Regions from separate parts of the Homo sapiens genome. Here region 1 is linked to region 2. The links come from fine-mapping of genetic effects on gene expression. Tissue or cell type: whole blood. Region 2 holds a variant in brackets; the other region holds the start of a gene. All regions are shown on one strand. Distances are between the middles of the regions.

The links. PIP is the estimated chance that this variant, and not a neighbour inherited with it, causes the effect.
Region 1: it holds the start of ADARB2, and the variant in region 2 is fine-mapped to the expression of ADARB2 in whole blood (TOPMed, PIP above 0.99). The same link has a PIP of 0.9 or more in spleen.

Annotation. Positions count from the first base shown.
Region 1 is chr10:1,734,734-1,739,993 of GRCh38, forward strand. It overlaps ADARB2 (adenosine deaminase RNA specific B2 (inactive)), which reads right to left and starts at 2,792. Exons shown (of 10, transcript NM_018702.4): 1 at 2,318-2,792. The coding sequence starts at 2,417. RefSeq lists an enhancer at 2,124-2,720 and a silencer at 2,682-2,741.
Region 2 is chr10:1,259,979-1,265,238 of GRCh38, forward strand. All of the region lies in intron 4 of ADARB2 (adenosine deaminase RNA specific B2 (inactive)), which reads right to left. Among named protein-coding and RNA genes, the nearest start is that of LINC00200, 100 kb to the left of the region's middle. The variant C/T (reference allele first, on the strand shown) is at 2,407.

The DNA of each region.
Region 1 (5,260 bases), 470 kb after region 2:
TAAATTCCTTAACAGTCTCTCATACACACGTGGATTTTAAATTGTGGCAAGTATAGAGTTTTAATATCAGATAAGCTTAAAATTGAGGTTATTCTATTCATTTATGGTTGTTAAGATTCATGACAATTAGAACATAATTTAAACTCACCATTGTTTTTATAAAATAAAAAATATCAGCATCTGTAATAACTAGGTATCATAGATGAAGTAATCAATTCCCAGGAAAATGCAAATAATTATTTAATGTGTCTCTTAGCTGGTTACTTTACCTTTTAATTTGATCAGTTACATCTACATGGTTAACGTTTCCCCAAAAATTGAATCTTTAGCCGTTTGATTTGACTTTCCTATCAAGATAGCTGCCGGCAGGTGCCCTGGGAAATTCTCCCGCACGCCAGAAATCTCTTCGTAACAGAAATCAGTGTACAAAACCTGAATGCCCTTTCCCGCTTCAATTTTTGGCTATGAAAATTAAGGGACTTGACATATTCAAAATAACCAAGGTATGGAAATATTTGCTATAGGAGTTTTATTTTGAATTGCTAAAGTTAAGTTTATAGCAAATGAAGTCTTTCCCCAGATTTCCTTTTTCCCCCTAAATTGAATACTTTCTAAGCTAGCATGACTGACGCTTCCTGGCAAGGCAAGTGAATTTGGAGAAAGGCAACACTTTCCTCCTGTTTATATTTATAAAATGCATTATTGCGAACTATTACTCCACATTCTTCAACTCTAAATATTTAAATAGACTAATCAAAAAATATTGGGAAATGTGAACATTTCAAGTGTAAAGATGATGCTTCCTTTTTCCTCTTTTAAAAGTCATATTCATTATTCAATCCGGTGACTTTCTCAATATCAATGCCACTTTGTGTTGGCATTATCTTTGGAGGACACTAACAGGTCTGTTTCAAAATGATAATTTCAAACAACAAAGTGAATCGCAAGCGCACACTTAGCAGCTGAGAGGTAAATGAGAACCACAACATCACCTCCCTTCTGAAACCAAAGGCTCCAAAACCTTTTGAGGAAGTTGTGGGGGCCAATCCCTCCCAGTGGTCCTGACGTTCGGTCATAATGAATGACTGTTTGCTATTGACATTTATGCCTGCTGACTGTCTGGATAATTTCTATTATTGGAAGAGGCAATAAAGGACCTGGTGACGGTTCGAGGGCACACAGGAAACGGTCTGGTAGAAACTTATCTTAGGCCAATGCAAAGATGAAAATTCTTCAGGAAAGATGGACAACCCCAAACACACCTAACGTTGCCTCCTGCTTTCAAACAACTGGCAAAGCTGATCAATTCTAGCTGTGTTTTTCCAACCGTTCTTTATACTTCTACCTCACTTAAAAAAAATCAGCACATTTCAAATCATGATTAGAACTGAACTTTCTCCTGCAGGCTCACTAGGAACTGACAATAACACAGGTTCCTCTAGGAGAGAAGGGTCGGCATGAGAAGAATCTTTTAATTCTTCCTGGCATGCACACAGGCTACGATGGCACTGGGGGCATTGCTCTCATATTGGAGCGATTGCTAATTTTGCAAAATCCCCAGTGTGAAAGCCCTCCCTTGCTGTAGCATTGACTAACTTCAGCGCGGCCCAGCCCCAGGAATATCAGTAACAAGGCACAGCTGAGTTTGTCAGTGGCCGCTGTCAGCCGGCTGCTTTTCCTGCTTTCCTGGTTTGCGGTTTTTTTCTACCACTAACAAAATATGATGCTTCTTTCTGTTTTCCTGTATTCATTTCTGCTTATTTCTCCAAGGACGAGCCCTGTGTTCTCTTTACGACCCAATGTTTACAAATCGACGGGCACCACATTGAGTAAAAACTGCCAGCCAATTTGGAGAGGCGATCGCAGGGCTTCGCCTATCCCTTCCTCCGGGACAGTTTGGATGGGAGTAGCTGGCGCGAGGGCTCGTTCCCCCGTTTTTGGGTAATTCCTTTGGCACTGGGAGACGAGATGGCCTCCGGAGGGTGGAAGGCAGTGCCAGCCCGGCCGGCCACTGGGGACTGCGGGGCCCGGAGACGCGCGGGGTCCCCGGGGAGCTCCTCGCCGCCCTCGCCCCACTTCGTCCGGGTCCCTCAAACATGTCGCAGCGTGGCTGCTCACTGTCCCCTCTGGGCAAGAGGAGGCCCCAGACATTTCCACGGGATCTGAACTCCCGAGCGCCCTGCACGGAGCAGCCATCCCGCCAGCACCCCAAAGTGAAGCTGCTCACAACGGACAAGCCCGGAGACCCCATGAGAGGCCGGGGTGGAGAAGCCGGGGGTGAAGGGGGGCAGGGGCCGGCGCGCCACGCGGTCCTTACCTTTCCGCTTGGACCTCCGCCTCCTCCTCCTCTTGGACTTGCATTTGAGTTGACTGCTCAGCCCTCCAGACCCTCTGCCGCTCCCCAGGACCGAGGCCATGGCCGAGACCCAGGCGCGGAGCCCAGAGCCGCCTCCCTCCTGCACCTGCACCTGCCTCCTTCCCGGCAGCCGCCGCCGCCGCTGCTGCGAAGCTTGAGGTTGCAAACCCGGGAGCGGCTCACTTTTCAGGACTGAGCAGGAAAGCGCGCTCCGTCTCTCTGTCTCTCGAATTGTTCTCTATGACTTGCTCCCACTGGGCTGGGGGCCTCGGCTGGGCGCCTGGAGCGAGCTGCTCCCTGGTCAGGGAGGGCGGGGAAGGGCGCGCGGCGTCCTGAGTGCTCCGAGCTTCCCGCGGGCTCTGCCTCCTGCTCTGGGCTCCCAGCGCAGGGAGGCTACTTTTGCGCCTCTGCTAGTTGTTTGGCACCAGCCACTTTGAAGCCAATCACGCAGGGAGCTTGTCTATTTGCTGCAGCAGCGTCTAATTAGATCCAATCACAACTGCTTTCTGGCTCTGACATCAGCAGCAGCACCAGCCGCACCGCCGCCTGGCCGCTTGCAAACTCAGCTCCCGTTTGGACGGTGAAGCTCCCAGGACCGGCGGCTGGAGGGAGGCTGCTCCCGGGGAACAAGGACGCGGCGCGGGTGCGTCTGGGAGAGACCGGGGGAGCCTCCAGGAGGGACCCTGCCCGGGAGGACGAGGCCTCCTGCCGCAGCCTCGCGGACAGCTCAGCTCGCCCTGCTCAGAAAGACACAGGGACGGGTTTTTCCAACCAACAGTTTTTAACTAGTCAATTCATTACCATGCTCCTTGTGTCAAGGGGGGGAAATACCTCTTTCAGAAATGCAGAGACCGCACTTCCTCAGAAACGGACTGAGGTTTGCAATTCCCCAGGAGACAGCGTCCTGAGGGGCATTTATTCCTCAGAGCCTGCATGCTTGTCTGTTTGCCTCTTCTTTCCCCTCTTCATATTCCTTGGCCGTTTCCAATGCAAAAGATAAATCTTGCATAAAGACAGAGGTTTTGGGATCTGAGTCTGATTTTTGCCGTCAGGAATTTCATGTGTTGCTTTATTTAGGGAACAATGACACAAAAGGAAGAGAAAGCTCTCAGCGGAGAGTTTTGTTGCCAAATGTAATATTTGGATGGAAGAAAGTAACATTTACAAAGAGGTGGATTGCACACTGAAATAGTTTTAAGCAATTTTTTTTTCCAGGAATGTCCTATGTTTCAAGATTATACTTATGGAACCCTGGAAGTCTTATGTAAAATATAAAGAGGAATAGAATCTGGTAATCATCATTGCATCTTGTATTTAAATCACATAAGCTTTTAATTACAATAGTCATGTTTTTAAAAAAATCCACTCTAAAATTCATTAGCACACATTAACATGTTGATATAAAAATGGCACACAAATATTTCTGCTATTCATTGCCTCACATGCAACCTTTTCAGCTGCTTATGTGCCTAGAAATTTCCAGATAATTTTTATCATAAGAAAAAAGAATCACTCTGGGGGACATTGGAAATAATTAGGATGATCCTGTGTTGTTATGTGCTGAGCTGATAGATCGTAGCTCAGTTTTCATTGATGAGAGAGAGTAAGACATTTGATTTCAAATCTTAACTCTACTGCTATGACCTCGGGTAAGTTAAACCGTGCCTCAGTTTCCTCATCTGTAAACTGGGGATAACAACGTCACCCACCTCATAAGTTCATTCATACTCGTTGAATCAGTATCAACCAGTATAGACAGGAACTGGAACATGTTAATTACTCTATGATTATTTATTAAATTTTTTCCAGCAAATAATTTGGAAGGAATGAGCGTATGTTGCAGACAAGCCTCAGAAAGACAGGGCTTCTGCGTTTTCCTTTTAGAATGTTGAACCTTCTAGTCCAACTCAGACTGAGGACCACAATCAAACCAACATCCCTCTTCAGGGCTGGCTTCAACAACCCTGTTCCCATGACAGCACAGCTCAGCTCTGCTGATAATTCCCAGCGAGGGTTGAGAAGGCACATAGCTCTCTCACTTCCTCTCTGCAATACCCGAGATATTTGAGTGCTTAAACTATATCGAGAAACACAGCTCTAGGACTCTGCCTGTGAAACTTCTGAGCTTCACACAATGTGCTGCACTAATCCAGAGTTGCCCTATTTCTGTATCTGCAGAAAACCCATCAGGGGGTGGAGTCACCGAAGGAAGGTGCTTCAGAAGAGCTTCACACACACACACAGCCCCCACAAGGTGGTCAGCATTTATTAATGGCCCCAATAGCTCCATCATCACACGGAGCAACCGTGCTGTCTGGGAGACTCGTATACATGAACCCTTGTTTCACTCCAAGGGCAGGTATGGTGGCCGGAAAGTAACGTGTCTGTTAAATGTTCTTCTGATGTTGGTGGAGTGGGGAAACAAAACTGAAAACTGTCTTTGAACACTTCATTTAGACCCTAATTTGAAAGTTACGATCGAAATTTTGGCAAACCTTTTTCTTGAAGTTCCTCCAATTGGTTCTTTTTTGTATAATTTATGAAAATGCTGTTTTCACAGATACTTGCTGTTTTCTGTATTTTATTTATTTTGCATAAGACGATGCATAATAGATGATGCTAGGGCGACGGCTAGGCGAGAAAGCCTTTGTTTCTCATCACAGAGGGGCTTTAAAGAAGAGGCTCGCAGCGACAAGTGCGTTAACTCCAGCGTGGTTTCCAGCACGTCTCACTCTGCTGTTGCAAGCAGGGCTGCGAGTGAGCAGTGCTGGTAAGCTGCCATTCCCCGATGAGCCTCCTCACCTCCTGCCTGTTTCCCACAGTGCCTCAGCGCAGCTTTGCAACGTGGTGGGATGAGCAGCAGTTGGAAGAGGCTTCAGGAGCAGGAGCCAATCTCGCCCGGTG
Region 2 (5,260 bases):
TGCAAGGCTGGTTCAACATACGAAAATCAATAAATGTAATCCAGCATATAAACAGAACCAAAGGCAAAAACCACATGATTATCTCAATAGATGCAGAAAAGGCCTTTGACAAAATTAAACAACCCTTCATGCTAAAAAAACCTCAATAAATTAGTTATTGATGGGACGTATCTGAAAATAATAAGAGCTATCTATGACAAACCCACAGCCAATATCATACTGAATGGACAAAAACTGGAAGCATTCCCTTTGAAAACTGGCACAAGACAGGGATGCCCTCTCTCACCACTCCTATTCAACATAGTGTTGGAAGTTTTGGCCAGGGCAATCAGGCAGGAGAAGGAAATAAAGGGCATTCAGTTAGGAAAAGAGGAAGTCAAATTGTCCCTGTTTGCAGACGACATGATTGTATATCTAGAAAACCCCATTGTCTCAGCCCAAAATCTCCTTAAGCTGATAAGCAACTTCAGCAAAGTCTCAGGATATAAAATCAATGTACAAAAATCACAAGCATTCTTATACACCAATAACAGACGAACAGAGAGCCAAATCATGAGTGAACTCCCATTCACAATTGCTTCAAAGACAATAAAATACCTAGGAATCCAACTTATAAGGGATGTGAAGGACCTCTTCAAGGAGAAATACAAACCACTGATCAAGGAAATAAAAGAGGATACAAACAAATGGAAGAACATTCCATGCTCATGGGTAGGAAGAATCAATATTGTGAAAATGGCCATACTGCCCAAGGTAATTTACAGATTCAATGCCATCCCCATCAAGCTACCAATGACTTTCTTCACAGAATTGGAAAAAACTACTTTAAAGTTCATATGGAACCAAAAAAGAGCCCGCATCACCAAGTCAATCCTAAGCCAAAAGAACAAAGCTGGAGGCATCACACTACCTGACTTCAAACTATATTACAAGGCTACAGTAACCAAAACAGCATGGTACTGGTACCAAAACAGAGATATAGATCAATGGAACAGAACAGAGCCCTCAGAAATAACGCCGCATATCTACAACTATCTGATCTTTGACAAACCTGAGAAAAACAAGCAATGGGGAAAGGATTCCCTATTTAATAAATGGTGCTGGGAAAACTGGCTAGCCATATGTAGAAAGCTGAAACTGGATCCCTTCCTTACACCTTATACAAAAATCAATTCAAGATGGATTAAAGACTTAAACGTTAGACCTAAAACCATAAAAACCCTAGAAGAAAACCTGGGCATCACCATTCAGGACATAGGCATGGGCAAGGACTTCATGTCCAAAACACCAACAGCAATGGCAACAAAAGACAAAATTGACAAATGGGATCTAATTAAACTAAAGAGCTTCTGCACAGCAAAAGAAACTACCATCAGAGTGAACAGGCAACCTACAAAATGGGAGAAAATTTTCGCAACCTACTCATCTGACAAAGGGCTAATACCCAGAATCTACAATGAACTCAAACAAATTTACAAGAAAAAAACAACCCCATAAAAAAGTGGGCAAAGGACATGAACAGACACTTCTCAAAAGAAGACATTTATGCAGCCAAAAGACACATGAAAAAATGCTCATTATCACTGGCCATCAGAGAAATGCAAATCAAAACCACAATGAGATACCATCTCACACCAGGCAATCATTAAAAAGTCAGGAAACAACAGGTGCTGGAGAGGATGTGGAGAAATAGGAACACTTTTACACTGTTGGTGGGACTGTCAACTAGTTCAACCATTGTGGAAGTCAGTGTGGCGATTCCTCAGGGATCTAGAACTAGAAATACCATTTGACCCAGCCATTCCATTACTGGGTATATACCCAAAGGACTATAAATCTTGCTGCTATAAAGACACATGCACACGTATGTTTATTGTGGCATTATTCACAATAGCAAAGACTTGGAACCAAGCCAAATGTCCAACAATGATAGACTGGATTAAGAAAATGTGGCACATATACACCATGGAATACTATGCAGCCATAAAAAATGATGAGTTCATGTCCTTTGTAGGGACATGGATGAAATTGGAAATCATCATTCTCAGTAAACTATCGCAAGAACAAACAACCAAACACCGCATATTCTCACTCATAGGTGGGAATTGAACAATGAGATCCCATGGACACAGGAAGGGGAATATCACACTCTGGGGACTGTGGTGGGGTGGGGGGAGGGGGGAGGGATAGCATTGGGAGATATACCTAATGCTAGATGACGAGTTAGTGGGTGCAGTACACCAGCATGGCACATGTATGCATATGTAACTAACCTGCACAATGTGCACATGTACCCTAAAACTTAAAGTATAATAATAATAATAATAATAATAATAATAATAAAAGAAACCACCATCAGAGTGAACAGGCAGCCTACAGAATGGGAGAAAATTTTTGCAACCCACT[C/T]ATGTGACAAAGGGCTAATATCCAGAATCTACAATGAACTCAAACAAATTTACAAGAAAAATCAAACAACCCCATGAAAAAGTGGGCGAAGGTATGAACAGACACTTCTCAAAAGAAGACATTTATGCAGCCAAAAAACACACAAAAAAATGCTCATCATCACTGGCTATCAGAGAAATACAAATCAAAACCACAGATACCATCTCACACCAGTTAGAATGGTGATCATTAAAAAGTCAGGAAACAACAGGTGCTGGAGAGGATGTGGAGAAATAGGAACACTTTTACCCTGTTGGTGGGACTGTAAACTAGTTCAACCATTGTGGAAGTCAGTGTGGCGATTCCTCAGGGATCTAGAACTAGAAATACCATTTGACCCAGTCATCCCATTACTGGGTATATACCCAAAGGATTATAAATCATGCTGCTGTAAAGACATATGCACACATATGTTTATTTTGGCACTATTCACAATAGCAAAGACTTGGAACCAAGCCATATGTCCAACAATGATAGACTGGTTTAAGAAAATGTGGCACATGTACACCATGGAATACTATGCAGCCATAAAAAATGATAAGTCTATGTCCTTTGTAGGGACATGGATGAAACTGGAAACCATCATTCTCAGCAAACTATCACAAGGACAAAAAACCAAACACTGCATGTTCTCACTCATAGGTGGGAATTGAACAATGAGATCACATGGACACAGGAAGGGGAACATCACACACCGGGGCCTGTTGTGGGGTGGGGGGAGGGGGGAGGGATAGCATTAGGAGATATACCTAATGCTAAATGATGAGTTACTGGGTGCAGCACACCAACATGGCACATGTATACATATGTAACAAACCTGCACGTTGTGCACATGTACCCTAAAACTTAAAGTATAATAATAGTAATAATAAAGAATATTTTAGCTTGTTGAATAATAGGAGAATGTGGCTTTACACACCCCAAACATTGCCTGGCATGCAGGTAAACACTGGATGCTAGTGTCCTTTATTTTTTCACCAACAAAGTTAGTGTTATGCTTCCAGTAAAAAAAGACTCATAGTCAAAGAGACCAGAATAAAATGAGTTTAGTTGTGTTGCTTTGAGATATAATATGGCGTTGGATTTTCTTTTCCTGGTGAAGCCTTTTGGACAATTAGATTGAAGATAGAATTGAATGCTCAGTTATGAGTTAATAATCAGAAAAGTGAAGAAGTGTTTGAACAGCTTTGATTGGAGTACTAGACCTTGAGAGTGTAGCAAAAATATTTATTTTCTCCTCCATTTCTCATGTATTTCCATCTACCCATTTCCTTACTTGGGATAAATGAAGGCATTTGGTGAGGATTTAACTCACGGCCAGGGCTGCCAGTCCTCTCCTTAGTTAATTCAGCCTTGAGGGTTTTCATCCGCACCCTGTGAATTATTCCAGGCTAAACTATTTAAATGAGCCAGGCTAAACTATTTAAATGTTCGGGTGGAACAAATGTCCAGTCATTGATTTTCTTTTCCTCTCCATTTTGAGGAGGGATGTTTAGTAGAAATGTGTCAGCATTCACACTACGCAAGGGTCAGCACCGGTTTAGTGAAATCTGTCCTGCATTTTATAGTTTAAACCTAACAGTTTAAACCAAAGATTTAAAATCAATTGCCCATCAGCGCTCCTTATTGTACTCAGCCGTCGGCCTCCGTGAATCTTAATGTGCCTGAACAGACCCACAGAGACACAGCATCAGCTTCACATTTCTCGGTATCCACTTAGTAATCATTAAGATCAATTCCTTGAAATACAGATGATAATTCACCATCTTTCATCGCAGCATGAGGTTTCTGTTTAGGGATTTTTGTCCAGTTCATTTGTTTCAGCTTATCTTCCTCATGCCCGACTGGATGCAAATAAAAAGACCTTGCTTTTAATTTTAAGATCAAAGTGACTGCCAGTCATTCAGGGGAGACAACGGAAGGAAAGGTTTTGAAAAATTGGGGGAATAAACTCCTTATACTCCGCTTCTCTTAGGTCCTTGTGAAGATGAACTTACACAGATGCTCTTTGTATGATGGAAAGAGAAGTTTTAACTGTATTTAAACTGTCATGGTTTCTAAAGTGCAAATGGGAAAATCATGTTTGATAACCAGCTTTATCTGGTACAACACAATAACACAATTCTTTATTCAAGCCGAAAGCGTGGCACAGACAGTACGGACACATTTCTTTACCTTATGTGCTCATTTTAGGTTCAAAGCCAAGCATATGCAGCAAAACATAGTCTACATTTCAAAACTTGGAAAACTTATGCTCCATCGTGGAATTAATTGGCACTTTTGTATTTTTCCTAATAAGAGAGGCCGGACCACTTCCCTCAGAAGGGTTTCCTAGTTGTCCTGGGCTGTTTTTACAAAGTTGAACTCTACCAGGCTGTTTTCAAGAAATGTGCATTTTTCCAGGGCAGTTGTAAGTCAGTCCAAGAAAATTGTGGAGCGATAAAGCTGGACCTTAGTTTAAATGGGAAAGAATATTTATAAAAGCCATATTTTCAGAATATGTTTTGTAGGCTAGACTAGCAAAAATTTAAACATGACCCCCTAATGTACTCTAGAAAACTCCTTTTTTCTAGTTATTAATAAACTCGAAAAATAATTTCCCATAAAGAGGTAATGCATGGTCACCACCGGGCCTTGATGCCTGCTTCCAAAAGGAACCTGGAACTGGGAAGGATAAAGGACCATCAGCTCTACATTTCAGCTCTGCCCCGCCCTCAGGGCATCAGGAAAGCCACTTGGCCTCTTCATCTTCGTGTCTGCATTTCCTGAAGTGTTAATAAGAATTCCTGCCTTCCCCACTTATCGGGGTTATGTC